Homo sapiens: one gene and its partners. The protein of the gene in region 2 interacts with the protein of the main gene of each other region in a biochemical or structural test. Each region holds a gene or a part of one and is shown on either strand. Other genes may lie near its edges.

The links. Proteins that work in one complex are often made in the same cells at the same time.
Region 1: the proteins of FLNC (region 2) and KCND2 form a complex in vitro, tested with the Homo sapiens proteins (one study listed by BioGRID).
Region 3: the proteins of FLNC (region 2) and SYNPO2 form a complex in vitro, tested with the Homo sapiens proteins (one study listed by BioGRID).

Annotation. Positions count from the first base shown.
Region 1 is NC_000007.14:120,731,160-120,738,186, reverse strand, and holds part of KCND2 (A-type voltage-gated potassium channel KCND2), read right to left. Parts: intron 5,285-7,027; coding exon 5,122-5,284; intron 1-5,121. UniProt on the Homo sapiens protein: Voltage-gated potassium channel that mediates transmembrane potassium transport in excitable membranes, primarily in the brain. Mediates the major part of the dendritic A-type current I(SA) in brain neurons.
Region 2 is NC_000007.14:128,833,399-128,840,425, forward strand, and holds part of FLNC (filamin-C), read left to right. Parts: intron 1-1,927; coding exon 1,928-2,176; intron 2,177-3,761; coding exon 3,762-3,859; intron 3,860-3,999; coding exon 4,000-4,150; intron 4,151-4,238; coding exon 4,239-4,357; intron 4,358-4,588; coding exon 4,589-4,666; intron 4,667-4,868; coding exon 4,869-5,031; intron 5,032-5,204; coding exon 5,205-5,405; intron 5,406-6,624; coding exon 6,625-6,762; intron 6,763-7,027.
Region 3 is NC_000004.12:119,052,839-119,059,865, forward strand, and holds part of SYNPO2 (synaptopodin-2), read left to right. Parts: intron 1-4,562; coding exon 4,563-5,096; 3' UTR 5,097-7,027. UniProt on the Homo sapiens protein: Has an actin-binding and actin-bundling activity. Can induce the formation of F-actin networks in an isoform-specific manner.

The DNA.
Region 1 (7,027 bases), 8.1 Mb from region 2:
TATAATCTGCAAATTTCCTCAAACTAATTTGACATAGAAATCTTGTATTGTGAAGTACTCACAGGCTAGAATGCAGTGGAACACAATGGGTTTTATCAAGTAGATTGTTTTTTAATTACGCCAAGTGACATAAACTTTATAGTTTATGTTGTGGAACAGAGGGTGGAAGTCAATCTGAGAAGGATCTATAAGCCAAACACCACTGAGACATTGATTTCTTTAAATGGTCAGTCATTTCTAGATGAGGTATGAGGTAGATTAAAGGAAGTTATTGGGCCATCTTGTTACCAAATCACAAAATCTTTTGAAAAATAAAGGTATCCTAGGTAGCCTTAAAAGTGAGGTAATGAAGGTGTTTCTCTTTGGTAATTCCTTATTCCTCAAATGCCTGCCTCCACACTCCCTGTAACATGCATTCTGGAAATTTTGCTTACAGTTGTTTCTTTCATTTAAGGGTTAGTAAAATGCCTCAGTTTGAGGTAACATAGTAAACTTTATCACCTTTTAGAAGTTTAAGGCATTTATTGGAATCTTTTCACTTGCTAAGAAAAATAGCTGTGCTAGAAATGAGACAAGTTAGTACCAAACTACAATAAAAAGAGAAGAAAGAAGTCAGTGGCAGACAGTGCAACATTCCTAGGTCCAGAACTTGGTTAATCCTGGAGATGGCAGGGCTAAGCAGAAAAAGGGCTGGGATTTGGGTTAGTGGAAGAGGCTAAGCAATGAGAGGTCTACAAGAGGATTCCATGGTGGAAGCGGTGAGAACTGAAAGAGGATATAGGAGAGCATCCAAGACCAAATTCTTAGGTGGAATTAGGAGCTGGGTAATTTTGTTTTTAACAGTAGATAACCTAAGAGATCATTCTCAGGTTCTAGCAAGTAGTTATTTCTTGCTTTTTCATTATTCTACTTAAATAAAAATCTTTGATTTTGACATTGCTGAATGTACTAGGCAGTGGTTCTCAAAATGTGGTCTTCCAAACAGCAATATCAGCATCACCTGGGAATTTATTAGCAAAATTTCAGGTTCTAACCCAAAACTACAGAGTCTGATGATTTGGGAGTAGGGCTCAACAATCTGTTTTTTGTTTTGTTTTTTTTTTTTTTGTTTGTGTGTGTGTGTGTGTGTGTGTGTGTGTGTGTGTGTGTGTAAGCTTTCCAGATGATTCTAATGAATCTAAAGTTTGAAAACCACCCTAGCAGGGTGTGATAAATGGCAGACTACATATGGGTAGTGTCTTTCTAAGTCAATGTGAAATTTAAAAATATTACACTATACATTGGCTCATTGATTCTAAACTTCTCACTGCATTTAGAATTATCTATAGGAATATCCTAAAATATTCATAGTTCAAATAATACTAGAATTTTTTTGCCTTGGACTTTAATCACTAGGTTTGTGAGCATGAGCAAGTTATCTGTAAAATGGAAATAGTATACTTCCTTTGCAAGTTGATTGTGAATATTACAAAAAAAACAGATATAAAACACCTGGGACATTCTAGAAACTAGTGAGGGTTTTTGTTGTTGCAATTAGTATTATTAAATTATAACTATAATTACTACTATGATTATTATATGATAATTACTCACAGGTTAGCCTGTGAGTATGCAGATGATTAGGTGATGTGATCCATATATTAAAAGAGCTGCTTCAAAATGTCAACCTGCCACTTGTCATTGCATTAATCTAGCTTTATTTTGGCTAATACATTCTACTCAGTAAATACTTATAGTATAACTACGAGAATCAATAAATCTATTAAAATATAATTACCAATGGTGGGAGTAGAGGAGAGGTGTCACAGTTTAGGCCTATACCCACCAGCATGTCAGTATTTAGTTAAGACTTTATCAATGATTGATAGAAATGGGGTAAACCATGTATTCCCTGTATATGGCAGGAGTGGACAGCAAAAGTAGGAAGAGTACTTGCAAATGGAAGAAACTAGAAGAAGGAAAGTATTTCTGATAGTGATGATAGGAATTTTCTAAAATTAATATTGTGTCTATTTCATGCTTTTGCTTGGTCTTAGTGTGGCAATTGAATTAAACACCAAAAATATGGTCTAACAAACCATTTTGTAATATTACTTTTATTAGTCAGTTGGACTGACGTTTTTACTGAATTGAATGCTTGCTTGACTGAATTAGCTGGTCATTTTTGCATAACTTTAATATTTGGCACATAGCCCAGTCCCAGATAAATAAACTGTCTTAGCCTAATGGGCGTTTGTTCTGCTTTTTTTTCCCCCTAATCTCTTGGGAAGGAAAATAGAAAATATCCCCTGGTAACTTATTTAGTTCATATCCACTGTTCTTTCTTAGAAGATTATGTTCAGTTTATTGGTCACAGTCTACATACTGGACATATTATACTTGGTTATTATATTTTACTTTATTAATCCAATTTTTTCAGTAGTAAAACTCTGTAAAATTCATTGCATTATGGCAGAAACCAAAAATATAGCAAATATTTAAAGATACCAAAAAGCATTCACAAAATATACTTTTCAATTAGTGTACTTTTAGAATGTCACATTATTTACTTTTGATTTCTAAATGTATTTTAGTATTTAATATTTAGTAGACCAAAAGGCTTCTAAAATATTCTAAGGTTTTCTTTATTGATTTCTTTGTTGCAGATGACAAACTCTGAAGAAATACAAGTGTTTGGGAAATTGGTTTATCGGAAATTTAGATTTGTGCTTTCTATAGTTTTCATACAGTTGGCTCTTATACTAAAGGAGAAATGTCTAGAATGGAGATAGATGGGTGGTTGAAAGTTAAACTTTTGGTAGGATCCTGTTATTTTAGACAATGTGTGTTTGTACTCAGTAGAGGGACTGTACTGTATGGGCAGCGTCATGAGTGTGATGTTTGAAGGTCCCTGGTGGTGGGGTCAGTTGTGGCTGAAATCCCTTTACCTCTGCTTGCCAAGGGTATGTATTCCCTACATAAGACTACAACTGTCCAGAGGGTGCCTTTTTCTACTCCTCCCTATTCGTTAGATGATCAGTTCTCTATATCCATGTTGACTGGACTATTTCTAACTCTTCTCTGTAATAATTAAAGGCTAGGCATTTGTCCAAAAATGAAGGGTTCCATAAAGCAAGTAACTACAGAGCTTGAAAAAGTGATTCTTTGCTAAAGGAAGAAGATCTTTGACAGTGGGCATAAATTAGTTCTCTGGACAAATATGCTGTGTGGCCACAGTGATTAACTAGAACTTTCCAAAGACTTACTTTATGAGATTGTATACTTTACTTAAGAGGCTGACATTGTTCATATGCGTGCTTAAGATCCCGTTCTGGAATTACCTACAAAGCCAGTGAATAACTATATCAAAGTCTCTCATGATATTTTGTAGTTATAACACATCACCTAGGTTGTGCATCTACTTTAGTCATGATTATGAATGGTTTTGGATATTTTTTAAAAAATGAAACTATCCTTAAAGGACAAAGATATAATGACCATGAAGAACACTGGAAATACAGTGCCATAAGTCCAAAGGAAACTACAAAAGAGATTTCCAAGATTATTTCTAAGCAACAAGGGCCCTGCCTCTCAAGGTGACTATTTTGACAAAGATTGGGGAAGGGAAGTATGCTAACATTTACATAGCTTTTCTGAGAGGCACTTTATCATAGTGTTTGTGTATATGAACCTGGGAGCCAGAATGGCTTGGATGGAATGGTGGATCTCCAACTTAACAGGTATGTGACTTTACAATTGCTTAATTTGGGGGTACTTGAGGATTACCATCTATAAAAATGAGGATAATAATGGTAACTAACGCCAGAGTTTTTGTGAAGGTTGTATGTGTTGACTCAAGTTTAGCCTAAAGTTGCCTCCTTACATATTTTAAGTTTAGCCTAAAGGTTTCTCTATGCATAGTGAACTGTAACTTACATGGAGGAGTAAACAGACTGTAACCCACTCTTGTGCCAACCGCTGAGTTTTGGCCAATCAAAGGGGGCCAACTGTTCAAACTGTGTTCAAATAAGGCAAACGCTGAGCTATAATCAGTACAATTGTTTCTGTACCTCACTTTTGTTTTCTGTATGTCACTTTCCTTTTACTGCCTGTAAATCTTTTTCTACCATGCGGCTGTGCTGGAGTTTCTGAGCTTACTCTGGCTTCAAAGGCTGCCCAATTCATGAGTTGTTCTTTGCTCAATTAAACTTTTCAATTTAATTTGGCTAAGGTTTGTCTTTTAACATATGAATTCTTTTGTGAAAAACATTAGGCTAATGTCTGACACATATAAACCATCAGTAAACATTAAATATTGATAATATGATGTGTTTATATAAATTTACATATACTTGTATATAATCTTAATCTTATTATTTATTATTTTCCCCATTTTACAGTTGAGTGTACGCTATGCTTATTCTTAGAGGGATTAATTACCTGGCATGAAGTTCAAACAAACGGTAAGCTGCTGGGACGAGAATAAAATTCAGCTACAGATGATCAGATTACTTCTTGTGTCAACTATGTAAAATATCTGAGACACATCTTGGTGACCTTTAATAACCCTCGTCTACTGGAACCAGTTTGACCCTTGATAGATAGAGACTCAATGAATCAGATCTAGAAATCTGATTTTAATAAAATTTGCCAAGAATCTGTTTCTGATTTTGCTACTGTCATTAGTGCTGTTCGTCAAATATTTCTTATTTTCTGCTTCTGGCCCCACAGTAGAATTGTATTTTCCTGCCCACTTTGAAATTAGACATTGCTGTGTGATTTGCTTTGGTTAATGCAATAGACAAGAAAGTGACTCAAACCACTTCCAGGAGGGACATTAGGAAGCAGTGTGTGATTCATCATGCCCTTTACTCCTGCTGGAGTGACTGCAGAAGTACACTGTCAAGATGGACTCTCTATTCTCTGGACAAGTAATGGACTTGTAGCATGATTCAGAAATATTGCTTATTGTTTTAAGCCACTGAGATGTTACGTTTCTTTTTAGTGTAGAATAACCTACTCGGTCCTGATTGATGCAACTACTGACCAATCCAGAGCACTGAATAACCATTAAGAAATTTTAAAGCTCATTATAAAAAGTGGGAAGTGCTAAACCATGGTTGCACGGAGTTGAATACGCACCTTTTGTGCCCTTCGTTTGTCTGCTCGTTGATTCTGGTGGTAGATGCGACTGAAGTTGGATACAATCACCGGAACAGGTAGAGCAATGACCAAGACCCCACTCAGCGAACAGATAGAACCAAAAATCTTCCCTGCTATGGTTTTTGGCACCATGTCACCATACCTGAGTTAAAGAAAAAATATATATATATTGTTTTAAGTCACAGAAAGACATTTCTACCTGAAACTAAGAATTTTTTCCTTTAAGTCAAATGATTTTTTGGACATATCTATTTCTACTTTGTGACTATAATATATATGGCTTCAGACTTTAATGTCAGAAATTATAAATATCTGAATATAAAAATTACCTTTCAACCTTATAGAAAGTGATTCTAACATTAAGTAATCTTTTTGATTGGAAAATATTTTAAGTCAGATGATGTAATGATAGCTCTTCAATTTTTCCTTTATATGCCATGACACAGTTCTTTACATTTATTTAATACTCAATAATTCTATGCTGAAATTTAGAGTCTGGATAACACAATTTTCCACTTAGTTTTTTCAACATTCAATTGGTTATGAAATTTAAGTAGAAAAAGTAGCACATCACATTCCTTTCACCAGATGTCATCATTTAAAAAATAAACTTTTCAAGGTCCCCATTAACCTTCACTTGTGAAATCTAATGGCCATTTCTCCATAAAAATCTAACTCAATCTCTCATTTGTAGCTTATTAGTTGACTATTCTCTCCTTGAAAGACTCCTTTTATTCTTGGCTTTAGTATTAGAAAATATTCTTATTTTCCCTCCTATCTCATTGGCTACCACTTCTCCATCTTTTTTTCTGCCTCCTTTCCCCTTATCTGATTTCTAAACCTTAGAGTACTTTAGGTCTCAGTCTTCCGTCCTCTTATCTTCTCCATATAAACCCACTTCCTATGTGACTTTGTCCAATCTCATAGCTTAAAACTATCTCTATGCAGCTGATGCTCTTGATTTATATTGACAGCCATGATGTCTCTCCTGAAAATCAGATTCATATCTTGAGTGGTCTGGTCTGATTATTTCTACCCCTGGATGCCTAAGAGCCCATTAAAATTTAAATTAACCAAAATGGAACTCTCATTTCCCTAGCTTCCTCTTCCTCTCTCAAATATTTTCCCCCCACAATTCTGCCACTTATAATTAAACATAATCACCACCATGCAGTTGTTCATACCAAAATTGGAAGAGCCATCGCCTTAATTGCCAGTATCAACGTTTCATCTCTTAGCTGGTCTTGTTGTCTCTGTGCAAACCAAATTGTATCCCATTCAAGTCTCTTTATGACAATAAACCAAACCGTGGTCATTTCTTGCCAGAGCCATAGATATAGCTTCTTACCTGACTCTCCTTTCTACATTTAGCACTTTACAATTCATGCCAACATAGCAGCCAGAACTTTGGTTTTAAAAATGGAGATTGGACTACTGCTATGTTGCTTAAACCCTGACATGGACTTGAAACTGAAATAAATCCAAACTCCTCAGTTTTGCCTCCAAGGGCCTACCTCATTTAGTTCCTGCCTGTATTTTACACCACCTTTCACCAAGCTCACTGGCCTCTGGCCACACTGGCCATCTGGCCTTCTGTTTTGTGTGCAGCCCCCAGATGGTGATTATTCAGGGTGCCATTTAAATGTCTCCATCCAAGTGATTTTCTGGCCACCTAATTCACAGTAGTCTTATTCTCTTTCCTATTCATTCTCTGTAACATTTCCTCATTTGACTGTCTTCAGAGTACTTATTAACAAGTAACATTTTCTTATTTATTGATTTATTTTTTCACTCCTCATCCACCCTACTGACATTAGAATGTAAAATTGCTAAAGCAGGAGCAGTTCTACTTTGTGTTTCGTGAGCATAAGGCCAGCTCCTACTA
Region 2 (7,027 bases):
GGCTTGGTGAGCCCTGGTGGCGCTGAGCTCCTCTCCTCTGCCTGGCCTCCGAGAGGGAGGAGGGAGAGGGAGGTCATTGCTTCCAGAGTGGGACTTGGGGCCCCACTGCCCTTCTCCTGCCCCAAGCCTGGACCACTTGCTGTCTGGCCCAGGGCCAGTTGCTGGGGAGAAACTTCCCTCTCCAGCAAATATGAATGACCACCCTCCCCATATACACACCGCCCCCCCCAACCCCTGCAGCCTCAAGGCTTCCTGCCCAGGGGTCTGGCTCCAGTTTGCAAGAAGTACTTCTGGGCGTGTGAGCTTTGGAGGCTGTCGGGGTTGTGAGAGGCTGGGGGCACTGGGGCATCCAGACTGTGTGAAAGTGTTGGAGCCTGTGTGTTTGAGAGAAAGCACCGGGAGGCAGGGAGTGAGTGTGTCATGGAATCTGAAAGCTGCCAAACCATTGTGCTGCAGTGGAGCCAGGGGAAGGGGGTGGGCTGGGGAGCTGCTGGGGAAGGAAGGATGAATCAGTGACAGGGTGGGGGAGCCCAGGCGGCCAGAGCCCCAGCCAGAGGGACAGGGAGACTGAGGCACCCCTCCCGGGGCAGGTGGGAGTGGGGCAGGGGATGCCCTGGATTTCCCAGGCTCTCGGTCTCCTAACACTTTCCCCAAGACCTGGGGAAGGGTGGAGGGGAGAAGATGTGTAAGGGGAAGGCTCCACTCCACCCTCTCCCATCTCTCGGGCAACATCAGTAAACAAGACTGTCTTCCACCCCCTTCCAGCCTCCTGAAAGCAGTGCTTTGGGAAGCTGATAGATTTCAGAACTTCATTGCCCTTTACAAGTAAGCTGAATTCCAAAGATCTATCTACATGCTAGGCCACCCCAGGCTTCTGGATATTTCTTTCTGATTGTTAAGGGGGATCTAGGCGCCCCCCCCCCCCAAATCTTGAGGAACCAGTTCTGGCTCAAAGGATTCCTCAAAGGAGGTGATGGGTGGAGTGTGTCAGCTCCTGAGGCTGGAGTCCCTCTGGCCCCCAGCCTTTGACAACATGACTTTCAAGACTTAACTGAGAATGTACTGGACCCCACCCACCCACCCCTGCCCCACTATCAGAACCCCTTGGTTTCTAAAGCCCTTTCTGGCATTCGGGGTAGAGTGTGAGTGGAAACTTGTCCTACCCCACTCCAATTTCAGTTCTTAAAATATTCATTCAACCAATATTTATTGAGACCTTACTATGTTTAAGACCTTCATTGTAGAAAGATAAAACCTAGTGTCTAGAGTGAAAAAAACCAGACCAAAAAAAAAGAGAGTATATACTGTGTGATTCCATTTATATAACACTCTAGGAAATACAAAGTAATCTATCGTGACAGAGAGCAGATCAGTTGTTGCTTGGGATGGAGGGACAAGGACGGCAGGAGGGAGGGCTCACAAAGGGGTGTGTGCAAGGAAACTTTGGGGAGTGATGGATGGTACCTTCGTTATTCTCCATCTGTGGTGACGGCTTCGTGATATATCCATAGTGTCAAAGCTTCTCAAACTTCATTCTCTAGCATGTGCAGTTTGCTGTATGTCAATCATAGCTCAGTAGAACTGTTAACAAAACAAAAAGGCTCTGCCCTGGGAGCCTTACAATCCCACAAGGCCAGAAAGAAACCAGGTAATTACATAGACAGGAGGCAGACTCACTTGCTGTAGCTGAGGTGAGGGTACCTTCCAGAACCACAGGAACACAGAGAAGCAGCCTTCTGACCGGAAGGGCCCCATAAAGAACTTGGCATCTGAGTGGGGCCTCGCAGGAGGGAGAGGGTCAGGTAGGCAGAGACTAGAGGCCTGACCCCAGAGCTCTGGCCCGAGGAGCTGCGCAGGTGAGGGAGGGTGCTCTGGGGCAGTGGAGGGTGGGGCGCCCCTGAGCCCGTCTGTGCCCTCCCCTCTGCAGACAGCAAGGCCATCGTGGATGGGAACCTGAAGCTGATCCTGGGCCTGATCTGGACGCTGATCCTGCACTACTCCATCTCCATGCCCATGTGGGAGGATGAAGATGATGAGGATGCCCGCAAACAGACGCCCAAGCAGCGGCTGCTTGGCTGGATCCAGAACAAGGTGCCCCAGCTGCCCATCACCAACTTCAACCGTGACTGGCAGGACGGCAAAGCTCTGGGCGCCCTGGTGGACAACTGCGCCCCCGGTGAGTGGGCCAGTGAGCACAGCATGGAGCCCTTAGCTCCCAAAGACAGAGGGGACAAGCTGGGGCTGCCAAGGCGTGTGGTTGTCAGAATGCACACCCTGGGGCCTGGGGGCCAGGATCCCCTGCAGGGTTTGTCCTCCTCCAGCTGTGGCTCTCCGCTGGCTGGTGGCAGGCCCTACCTGATGAGTGTGCCAGATTCCGCAGAGGCAGGAAGAGGTTTAAAACCCCTCATTTTACAGACAAGGACACTATGGCCCAGAGAGGGCTGGTGACTTATCCAAGATCACACAGCTTATCTGTGGCAGAACCACCTAGAGCCCAGGGCCTGGACTCCCTGCCCCATGAATTTTTTACTGTGCCACGAGGCACTATTCCTGCCGAGCTGAGAGAGAGGCAGTGTGGTGACCAGGACTTGTAGCAAGACCAGGAGTTAGATCCAGAGAAGGCTCTTCTCTGGGAGACCCTGGGATGACTTTGAGAAGGGGTTGAGGCTCAGGATGATGTGGGATGAGGCCAGTGGGGCACTGCCTGGTGGCAGGTGAGCCAGCCTTGCCCCTTCTCCGTGTAGGTCCTGGCCTGGTCAAGTGGGGACAGCTCAGGGGCCATGAAAAAAGCTGAGGCATCACTGGCTAGAGCGTACCCCATGGACAGCTCCCTTTCTGCCCCTCATCTCCTGAAAAGATAGGTTTTCTCCAGGAGTCACAGCCCCTCGGGAGAATCCTCCTCCACCCTGGGGTCAGCCGGGGAGCAGAGGGTGGGAGGCGGGGGCACAGCCTCCTGGGAAGCATTCCCAGCTGCTGAGCCATGGCCCATAACTGGTGTGGCTGCCAGCAGTGAGCTCAGCTGTTCCAGCCAGTCATGGATTCCAGCCTTGAGCCGGCCCCCTCCCCGAAACGGTGTGCCGTCCCCCTCCTCCAGCTCTGGCCTAAACCAAGCGCCCCTTCACCTGCACCGTTCATAGGAGTGATCTGGGGCTGCCTCAGCGTCCTTCCTGTTAGGAAGGCAGGGCTCCTGAGGGCTGCAGAGGAGAAGTCATTCTCTCCTCACAGGCCCTTTAATGCCTCAGTTTCCCCAAGTGAGCAGTTAGAAGGAATAGGGAGTCTCATACCCTAAGACTGGTGTGGAAAGCGTTTGGAGTTCTAGAGCTTCGGGGCAGCTGTGAGGAGGCCTTCTAGGGGGGATGGGTCAGGGGCATATGTGGGACAGGCACTCTGACCTCCTCTGCCCACCCCTGAGAAAGCTGAATGAGGCAAGAGATAGCGAGAGGGGGTACCCTCCCAGGGTTTGGGGTTCAAGGTCTGAGCTGGGGCCTGGGCAGGCAGGAGGCCGGCCAGCAGGGCTGGTGCCAGGCTGCGTCAGCCAGGGCAGAAAGGCTTCATTGTTGGTGGTGGAGAGGGCTGTCCTGCTCCTACGTGGTGAGGGGCCTCGAAGCTGATGGGGTCAGCAGGAACCTGGCTGGTCAAGGCCTAGAGCTGGTGGGAAGGGGTGTAAAGCCACAGCCTCTGAGGGTGTTGGGTGAACAAATGCCCTGCATCCTGGCCGGCTGGCTGCCCCTCACCATCGTCTCCCTCCATCACCTCTCCAGGTCTCTGCCCCGACTGGGAGGCCTGGGACCCCAACCAGCCCGTGGAGAACGCCCGGGAGGCCATGCAGCAGGCCGACGACTGGCTTGGGGTGCCCCAGGTACATGCGCAGATGGGGCAGGGGGGAAAGGGGGCAGGGGCAGAGGTTGGGTCTGTAAGTTTACCTGGCCAGGGTGCAGGGGGAGACTGGGGCTGCTGGGAAAAGAGGGCGCCATGTGACATCACTCCTTTCCATCGCAGGTCATTGCCCCTGAGGAGATTGTGGACCCCAACGTGGATGAGCATTCTGTTATGACCTACCTGTCCCAGTTCCCCAAGGCCAAGCTCAAACCTGGTGCCCCTGTTCGATCCAAGCAGCTGAACCCCAAGAAAGCCATCGCCTATGGGCCTGGTATGTGTGAGCCCCTGGCGGCCCTCCTGGGCAGCTGGGCACATGTAGGCTCTCCCTGAGTAACCTGGGCTCTGCTCCTGCCCCGTAGGCATCGAGCCACAGGGCAACACCGTGCTGCAGCCTGCCCACTTCACCGTGCAGACGGTGGACGCGGGCGTGGGCGAGGTGCTGGTCTACATCGAGGACCCTGAAGGCCACACCGAGGAGGTATGCAGAGGCCGCTGGGGACAGAGGGATTCACTTGGGATTGGAACCAGAGAGCGTGGGGCCAACAACAGGAATGGCCCGGAGGTGACTGCCAGAGCCACACACTGTGCTGTGCAGTCTGGGGAAGGTGTCACCATGGGGGCTGAGTGGGGCTGGGGTGCATAAGGCACTGTGGGGTCAGGAGGGGCTATGGTCATTGGAGAGGCTTCCAATCTTTTTCCTTCCTAATAGGCTAAGGTGGTTCCCAACAATGACAAGGATCGCACCTATGCTGTCTCCTATGTGCCCAAGGTCGCTGGGTTACACAAGGTATCTCCCTCTAGGCCCCCCTGCCTGCGCTGCTCTTCACATCCTTGGTTCCGGCTGCATGGACCCCTCTCTCAGCCTGTACCTCGCGCCTGCCCAGAGCCCCAGCTGCCCGCCTCTCACCCTCCTTGGCCTGGCTGTGCCCCTCTGCCCCCTCTCAGGACTGCTCTCCCCTAGAAGCTAACCTTTGACCTCTGACCCCTAGGTGACCGTGCTCTTTGCTGGCCAGAACATTGAACGCAGTCCCTTTGAGGTGAACGTGGGCATGGCCCTGGGAGATGCCAACAAGGTGTCAGCCCGTGGCCCTGGCCTGGAACCTGTGGGCAATGTGGCCAACAAACCCACCTACTTTGACATCTACACTGCGGGTAGGACGGGCCCCAGGGGGTGCAGGTGGAAAGCCCCTGACCATGTGGGGCTGTGTGGGGGTGGGGGGAGGCTGGGACAGGGATGCCAGCCAGAGGGTGGGCAGCCTCAGGGTGAGGGCACCGGGGCAGCTGTGTGTGTCCAGAGTGGTGCTGACAGCCTCTGTTTTCGGCAGGGGCCGGCACTGGCGATGTTGCTGTGGTGATCGTGGACCCACAGGGCCGGCGGGACACAGTGGAGGTGGCCCTGGAGGACAAGGGTGACAGCACGTTCCGCTGCACATACAGACCTGCCATGGAGGGGCCACATACCGTGCATGTGGCCTTTGCGGGTGCCCCCATCACCCGCAGTCCCTTCCCTGTCCATGTGTCGGAAGGTAAGGGCCCTTCACTGCTCCCCACGGTAGCCCTTACCAAAGCCAGAGGCTTGCAAGGGGCAGGAGGAAGAGCTGGGGCGGGGGTCTGCAGAGACCCCCTCCCTGAGTCCTCCATCCCACCCCCAAGGTGGCTGGAGTTCCTAAGAGCACAGCTGGGAGGCCACAGTGAAGGGTCCCAGAACATGTGCCACCCTGGGAGGGCTGAGCGGAAGTGACGGGGCTGTATGGGTGGGGGCATATCTAGGGAGTACTGCCTGCATGCCAAGCCCTCAGGTGGTGACTGCCCCACTTGTTCTCTCCCTGCACTCAGTGCCCATCGTCCACCAGGCCGAGAGTGATGCCACATTAATGCTCTCCAGTGGAGGCGGGGCCAGGCATGGCCGCAGCTGACTGGCCTCACCTGTGCTGTGTGGCATGGCCCGGGCCGTGTGGAATCGCCCCCCCTTCCTTGGCATTCTGTGGCAGGCCCCAGGTTCCATGCCGTTGTCTGTGTTCTGTGGCAGGTCTAGTGTCTTTGCCACTTGCCTGGTGATTTCTATGATGAAATCTGGGCTCTGAGCCATTGCCTGTGTTCCGTGGTACCCCTTGGGCAGTGCCATCGCCTATGGTCATGGTAGTCCTGGAATATGTGTCGTGTCCTGTTTCGTAGCACCTGTGGGTCCCATGCCATTTTTCTGGATTCTGTGGCAGGCTGAGATTCCCATTCCTTTGCCTGTGTTCCATAGCAAGGCCTGGGCTCATTGCCACTGGCCACGGTCTGTGGTAGGCTGATGTCCACACGTTGCCTGTGTTGTATGGCAGGCTTCGAGTTCTATGAAGTAGCCCTTGTTCTGTGGCATTGCTGGATGTTTTGTGGCATGACTTAGATCCTAAGGTTGCTTTGGTGCCCTGAGAGGCCCAGAGGGCTCTAGATGGATGGCCTTGGGCTGGGTAAAGGGGCCTTCCCTGTCTCTCTGAGCCCACTCTCAGCCCAGGCTCTGCCATGCATTTCCCCAGTGGCACTGGCTCGGAAACTTTCTTGTAACCTGCCTGATCTGGGGCCTGTAGCCAGCTCCAGCCCGGCAGCCCCGGTTGTGCTGGGGACACAAAGGGCTCCAGAGCAGGGCCGTGGGCCACTGCCTGTGCCTGGGAGGGGTTAGAAGGACTGTGCACAGGGAGGTGGGGGCTAGTGGTCCAAGGCCCCTCAGCACCCCCAACCTCCTTTCTCTTCCTCCCCTAGCCTGTAACCCCAACGCCTGCCGCGCCTCTGGGCGAGGCCTGCAGCCCAAGGGTGTTCGCGTGAAAGAGGTGGCTGACTTCAAGGTGTTTACCAAGGGTGCCGGCAGCGGGGAGCTCAAGGTCACGGTCAAGGGGCCAAGTGAGTGCCAGAGCCCAGGGTCGTGAGGGTGGGGCTGGGGGATCATAAGGGAAGTATGGCCAGTGGTTCTGACTCCCAGAGGGCAGTGACAGCCAGCACCACAGCTCCACAGTGACCAGAGGCACCCCAGAATCTCAGGCTCATTGTCTCCTCTCTGCCTCAGTTTCTTGGTCTACAAGCCAGGAATGATTCTCTCCACCCTAAGTGCTATACGGGGTGTTATGCACAGGGATGACAAGTGTTCCCTGCCCTGAGTTGCAGCACT
Region 3 (7,027 bases), on a different chromosome or scaffold from region 2:
AAGTTTTCTTCCAGTGGCAGCAGAAAACTTTTTTTTATTAAATAAAGTTTAAAAGGTAGTGGGAGACAGAAAGAAGCAATTTGATGGGTAAAGCTAATTTAACATCTTGGTTACAGTTAAGTGCTCTCATATAAAAATATTAAATTCCCTTGATGATGATATAACCCATGGTGGAAGTGACAACCCAGGACCTAATCCATGCTATGCTAGGATTCCAGCGTCAGACATTCAAACTCCAAAACAAAAGAAACACCTCTGTTACTTTCAGGTTCCTTTGGTCGTTTCTGGCTCAGGGTATATCACATGGCTTCATTCAGCCAGCCAAACAGAGAACAGCCTGAGCCTTGAAACTGTGATGGACAGAAGGAAACAGCACCAAAAAACACTGTGAAAATTGCTTTGGGGAAATACATTAAAATTAGAAGTATGGGTGCCAGTAGAGGCTAGAGGCTTGCAATATTTTGGACACAAACAGAAACTACATTGTACCTATGGAATGATTTATTTATATCCCAGTTGGATCTCTAACCTAAAATGGTTTATCATCTTATCCTCTATTACTAGCACTTGAAAGAATGTGAAGGCATGTTCGTCAGTCTGGGGAAATGTAGAAGAGCCATGGTCATTTTGCTCATTGAGCTGGTTGCTCTTCTTTCCTCACTGCTGTTACATTTGTCATATGCATGTTTGGCGTGAGATTTTTGCTTTCAGCTTCAATCCTAGGTTTTAATTTCCCTTCAGAAAGCCCTGGCTTACTCTTTCAATACCATACCTCAATATTTTAGTTTTCTCCCTGCATATTCATCTCTTTGTTAATAGGATATCACTGAACAATATTTTGAACTTTATAAATTCTGTCAAGTTTCAATTCTTCTGAATATTTTCAAACTCAGTGCATAAGAGAAACACCAAAAAATAATTCCTCTCTTTCATGTAATGTTTTGGATGTCTTATCACTGCAATGTATGCTTTCACATAGTACTTAATACTCCCAAGTATATTGATAATTATTTCTTTTTCCAGTTATTAGCCAGTAAATTAAACACCTGTATATATGTTCAGGGGCCTCACCGAGATTTCTGTAAAGTCTTAGCTCCCTTTATCTATTGCCATCCCCTCAGCCTTCTATCTTTTAAAATACCTAAATAACTGACTAAAGCAGTCCCTCAAGGTGCTACATCTAATTGATGCAGGATTTTTTTTAGCCTCTTTGCCAGACTTGCAACAGGGGTGCCCTGTTTACTCAGCTCACTGTGCTCAACCCCTTGAGGGAGGGAGCACATGAGTGAGTGAGTGTGGGATCTGGCTGGCCACTCCGGGCGCCAGCAGGAGCAGACTTCATGTGTGGCCCACAGCGGTGCCCAGGTGGGGGTGCTTGCGACCCCAAAGCCCCAGAGGGAGCGTTACAGTGCTCTCTTAGTTCTGCCGTCCACAGACGGTGGTTTGTTAGCAGCTCAGTTGGCCTCTTGCCTCATTGTGTGGGGTGGCTGCCCTTCATCCGTGAGGGCAAAGGGCCGGTGTGATGGCCTTTTTGGGTACCTGCACTCGGTGGGTCCCAAGCTCTTGTCCGGCGTCCAGGAAGAATGAGGTCACACAGACAACTGAAGGGCAGAGAATTTTACTAAGCTACGAAAATGGCTCTCAGTGGAGAGAGGAGCTAGACAGCGAAGAGGATGGGCAGGTTGTCTTCCCCTGAAGTCAGGTCATCTCTTCTGTAGTCTGTCCATCTCCCTCGAAGTCCAGCTGTCTCTCTGAAGTCTGGCCGTCTCCTCTAAGGTCCGGCCATCTCTCCCTCTACCGACTGAGTCTGGGGTCTTTATAATAGGCACACGGTGTGGGTGGGGTGGGCCGCAGGTAGTTTTGGAAAAAGCAACATTCCACTGGTAAAAAGACACTATTCACAAAGAACCAATCAGGAGAGAATGGGCAAACAGGAATAGAAGTTCTCACTTTGGGCTGTAAGTTTCAGACTATTTTGGCTTGAAGGTGGGGTTTCACCAGGGATCCACCTCTGTCTGCCTAGAATTTGTCTGCCTCCTGCCTCTATCATAATCAAAGACCACACAAAGCAAAATCATGGGACTCTGAAAACTCTCCCAGGGCCTCTGTAGACCACTGTTGTTCTAATTCTTCCACAGAAAGGACAAAAGTGATATACAGACACACACCACAACAGACAGCTACATTTCTCTTTATCACACTGAGTCTTACCACTTCTCACAGTTTAGAAAACTTCCTATTTTTTCCTGTCAAGACAGTTAAAGAGTCTCTTCTCTATCTTCTCTAAACTGATCTTGTTTCTTATTATTTATTTATTTATTTTTTTTTTTTGAGACAGAGTCTTGCTCTGTCACCCAGGCTGGAGTGCAGTGGTGTGATCTCAGCTCACTACAACTTCTGCCTCCTGGGTTCAAGTGATTCTTGTGCCTCAGCCTCCTGAGTAGCAGGGATTACAGGCCTATGCCATCACACCTTGGAGAATTCTTTTGTATTTTTAGTAGAGATGGGGTTTCACCATGTTGGCCAGGCTGGTCTTGAACTCCTGATCTCAAGTGATCCATCTGCCTCAGCCTCCCCAAGAGTTGGGATTACAGGCGTGAGCCACTGCACTGGCCCAAACTGGTCTTCTGTAATTGACTTAATTCAGCTACTGTGGGGCTAAAACTAGTACTGGATTGTGTGCTTATTGAGGGCAAGGACTTTATCATCTTTAAGTCTTCAGCTTATAGAAGAATACCTGGAAATATTAGGTGTACAATATGTTAATTTATGTTAAATGAGTCTATGAAATGAACACATACATAATGTGAAATAGAAACTAAGGCCTTAAAGGTGACTAAAAGTCAGGATTCCCCACACCTCACCCAAATATAGAGTAAGGAGAATTATGAGTGGTTCTGAATTAAGACAAGATTAGTGAAAGCAAGTTTTTGCTAAGATTCAACCATTGTAAGTAAAATTTAAATGATTAAAATGAGAGAATCAAGATTTATTATATTGGACCCCTTATTCTTCAGATAGAAACCAGGAATGAACCATCTACCTTCTTTGTGTACCTAATAATAAAAAAAAAACGAAACATTTGAATCTGAGATATTTTGCCTAAATCCAGGTATTGATATTCACTTTAAAGTTAAGAACTTGATTAAGAGAAAAGCTGTTGAAACTGTTTATGAAATTAGAGCACATTTTTAAGCATGGTAATGTTTTTTGTTAGGAAACAGGATGTTTTGATACTTTCAAAGTTGATACTCCTGTCCCCTAGGTGTACCCTTTCTGCGTTTTTGCCAAGAGCTTATCTCACACAGCCTCATGCATATTGGAATGTGTGAAGATGTAATGTGGATAGCCAGCCATCAGCATTCCTAGAAATGCAGAGGAGTAAAAGGAGAGAATGAGAACACAAGAGGTTTCATTAAATTATATTGCTGTAGCCAGGCACCGGGGCTCATGTCTGTAAGCCCAGCAACTTGGGAGGCTGAGGTGGGAGGATGGCTTGAGGCCAGGAGTCTAATACCACCAGCCTGGGCAACAGGGAGATCCTGTCTGTAAAAAAGATTTTTAAAAATTTAGCCAGGCATAGTGGTGTGCACCTGTAGTCCCAATTACTTGGGAGGCTGAGGCAGGAGGATTGCTTGAGCCCAGGAGTTTGAGGCTGCAGTGAGCCATGATCATGCTCTGCACTCCAGCCTGGGCAACAGAATGAGACCCCAACTCTATATAATAATAATTAATAATATTCCTGTGTTATTAGTCAAGCTGAATATTAAGTATACACAGAGGAATGTTGCAGGGATACAAACTCTCAAAGAAATAGGAATGTAATACACATGAAAGGAAGCAAAATGCAAATTAAACAAGAGGCAGGAGTAATTCCCTCAGAGACAAAGGCAATACACTCCACTCAGGAAATAAAAATCCATGTGATCGTCACCATATAAATAGATTTTGAGCGGAAAAGGGCCAGGCAGTTAATCATACCAGTAATGTTAACTACATCTAAGAAGCTCTGGTTTGTTTTTGCTATATTCATTCACTAGACCAACATTAGATAACAGATTAAAAGTCACTTGGGAAGAGTAAAAAGCTCAGTAATGTACAGCTTGTTTCTGAGGTTATCAATAGGTTTTGTTTATTTTGTACCAGCAAAGCAGGATAGGAATAAGGTTGGGATGTGAATTCACATATGCTTATGTGGAGGGCAGAGAGAAGGAAAGGTGGTTCCTAGTGATGACAGAGCCCCCGCCCTGCCCCTAGTGACTATGCCTAAGAAAGATGATAGCAACTGGGGCTATGCGTTCACAGATGGGGAGCAACTAGGAGGGCCAAGTGCAAAAGGTAAGATCAAGTGGCAGCCCACCATTTGCACTTGGCCCACTTTTGCAAAGGTGGGGACAGGCAGCATGTCCTGGCTTTAAGACTAAGCATTCTGGGGGGTTAATTTATTTTTATTTTTATTTTTTATTTTTGCAGTGCTTGGTAATGGTGCTAGGAATACTTTGGAGTAACAATCAGCACAAACCAAAATGAATGAGATATATTAATATTTTCATTGTTTTTAGGAGAGTGGGCGCTCCCTTTCTCTTCCTGGAAGATCAGTCCCACCCCCCATTTCTACATCTCCTTGGGTATACCAGCCTACTTATAGTTACTCTAGTAAACCAACCGATGGACTAGAGAAAGCAAACAAGAGACCAACTCCTTGGGAAGCAGCAGCAAAGTCTCCTCTCGGTCTAGTGGATGATGCTTTCCAACCCAGAAACATCCAGGAATCCATTGTGGCAAATGTGGTTTCAGCAGCTCGGAGGAAGGTGCTTCCAGGGCCTCCAGAGGATTGGAATGAAAGACTGTCCTATATTCCTCAAACCCAGAAGGCCTATATGGGCTCATGTGGAAGGCAAGAGTATAATGTCACAGCCAATAATAATATGTCCACCACCTCCCAATATGGTTCACAGTTGCCATATGCATATTATAGGCAGGCTTCAAGAAATGATTCTGCAATCATGTCCATGGAAACCAGGTCTGATTACTGTCTTCCAGTAGCTGATTACAACTACAACCCACACCCAAGGGGATGGAGACGCCAAACATGAAAGTTAGAAGAACGGATCATGTGCCAACTGTAGTTTTTTAAAAAAAACGCTCCTTTGTAGGGTTTTAAACTTTTCTAATAGATTTAGATTCACTTTTGGTCTTGGCTTGTTCTCATAAGTCATTTATCTAAGTTTGTGTTTCTGTGTGTGTGTGTGTGTGTGTATGTATGTGAATATACACACACACACACACACAGGTGAGTGTGAATACTTCCTTGTTGGCTGATCCATAGAGCATTACTTGGAAGAAAATTTCACTATTTGCATTGATGTGCTGGCATTTATATGTAATTCATAATTTTGATTCCATTAATAGGTAGTCTATGCAACAAACTCTACTCAATTAAAGTAAAACTAAGTATTTCTTCATTGTACCTTAGTCCAGGAAGAAATTAATGGAATATGGTGTGCTAATTATCACTACCTATAACATGAGGAATATAACATTGCAGAAATTTCTCATAGGGGCATGCCAGTGAGCAATTACTTTATAAAAATATTTTCCTTGGTGTTAAGTATTTCTCTGCAACTTTTTTTTTTTTTTTTTTTTTTTTTTGAGATGGAGTCTTGCTCTGTCCCACCCAGTCTGGAGTGCAATGGTGCGATCTTGGCTCACTGCAACCTGCGCCTCCTGGGTTCAAGCAATTCTCCTGCCTCAGCCTCCTGAGTAGCTGGGATTACAGGCATGAACCACCACACCTGGATAATTTTTGTATTTTTAGTAGACACAAAGTTTCACCATGTTGGTCAGACTGGTCTTGAACTCCTGACCTCGTGATCTGCCCGCCTCAGCCTCCCAAAGTGCTGGGATTACAGGCGTGAGCCACCACACCTGGCCTTTCTGCAACATTTTTTTAAAAAAATCTAATAAATCTTAGATTTTTAAAAAAGAATTAAAATGTGGGAGTTCTCAGAAAGAAATAAACACATGAGAATAAGATTATTACACATTTTGGAAGGACTTTTGAGGAATGATGTGATGTGTAGAGAATAGAAAGATTTAGATATATGCCTGTGACAGGAATAGATTCTGGGTTCAGGGGTCCCCATCTGTCAAATGAGAAGATTGGATTATCTAATCTTTTAGATCCTTAACAACTCTGATATTCTGAGATTCTCTCATTTGTAGAATGCCCGCTGATGCATTGTTTATTTTTTTTGCTCATAATATAAATATCAGATTATGTTTAGGAGTGGATTAGGTAATTAGTGTCACTACATGTATCATTAAAGGTCCTAAAAGGAATTGTTAGGCGGCAGGCTTTGTGTTACGTGTTACATGGAGTGAGGGTAGATGTGAAGATTTAAAACGATTGATGGATTTAAGGAAGTGGTACATAAATATGTCTGTTATTATGCAATCGTAGGTCATGATAATTTATTCAGTTATAGAAAACATGCCACAGAAGCCTATGTAACAAGTGGTGCTTCTTTAGAAAGTTGTCATTAGAATGTTCTGAGGAAGTTAAGCAGCTGCTTCATCAATCCCATGACACATGCCTTGTTAGCATGCCCATCAAATAATCAGATCAAACACCTGCTCCTTATTGCCATACCCACGAACTGTTAAATATAAAAAAATTCAAAGTATTTGACATCTTAAGCAAATATCCAGAATATTTTTAAGTAAAAAACCATCTTAAGTATTCAAAATTTCCTTGGTTTTTTAAAGGTGATAATTTTGCTTTGTGTTACTTTTTTGCTCTTGAATGTATCGTTATGATGGTCTCTTATAATCATGGTATCTTTCACAGAATAAAAATTAAAAATAATGCCAGGGTGCAAGTGACCAAGGCCTTATCTTGAAAGTTAAAAAAAAAAAGTAAAGAAATCACAGTAAGTTCTATTAGTGATGATAGAACCAGATATAAAATTGTTCAGTGATGGAGAAAAGAAACGATAAATACTTTCCAAGGTTATATTGTTAAATT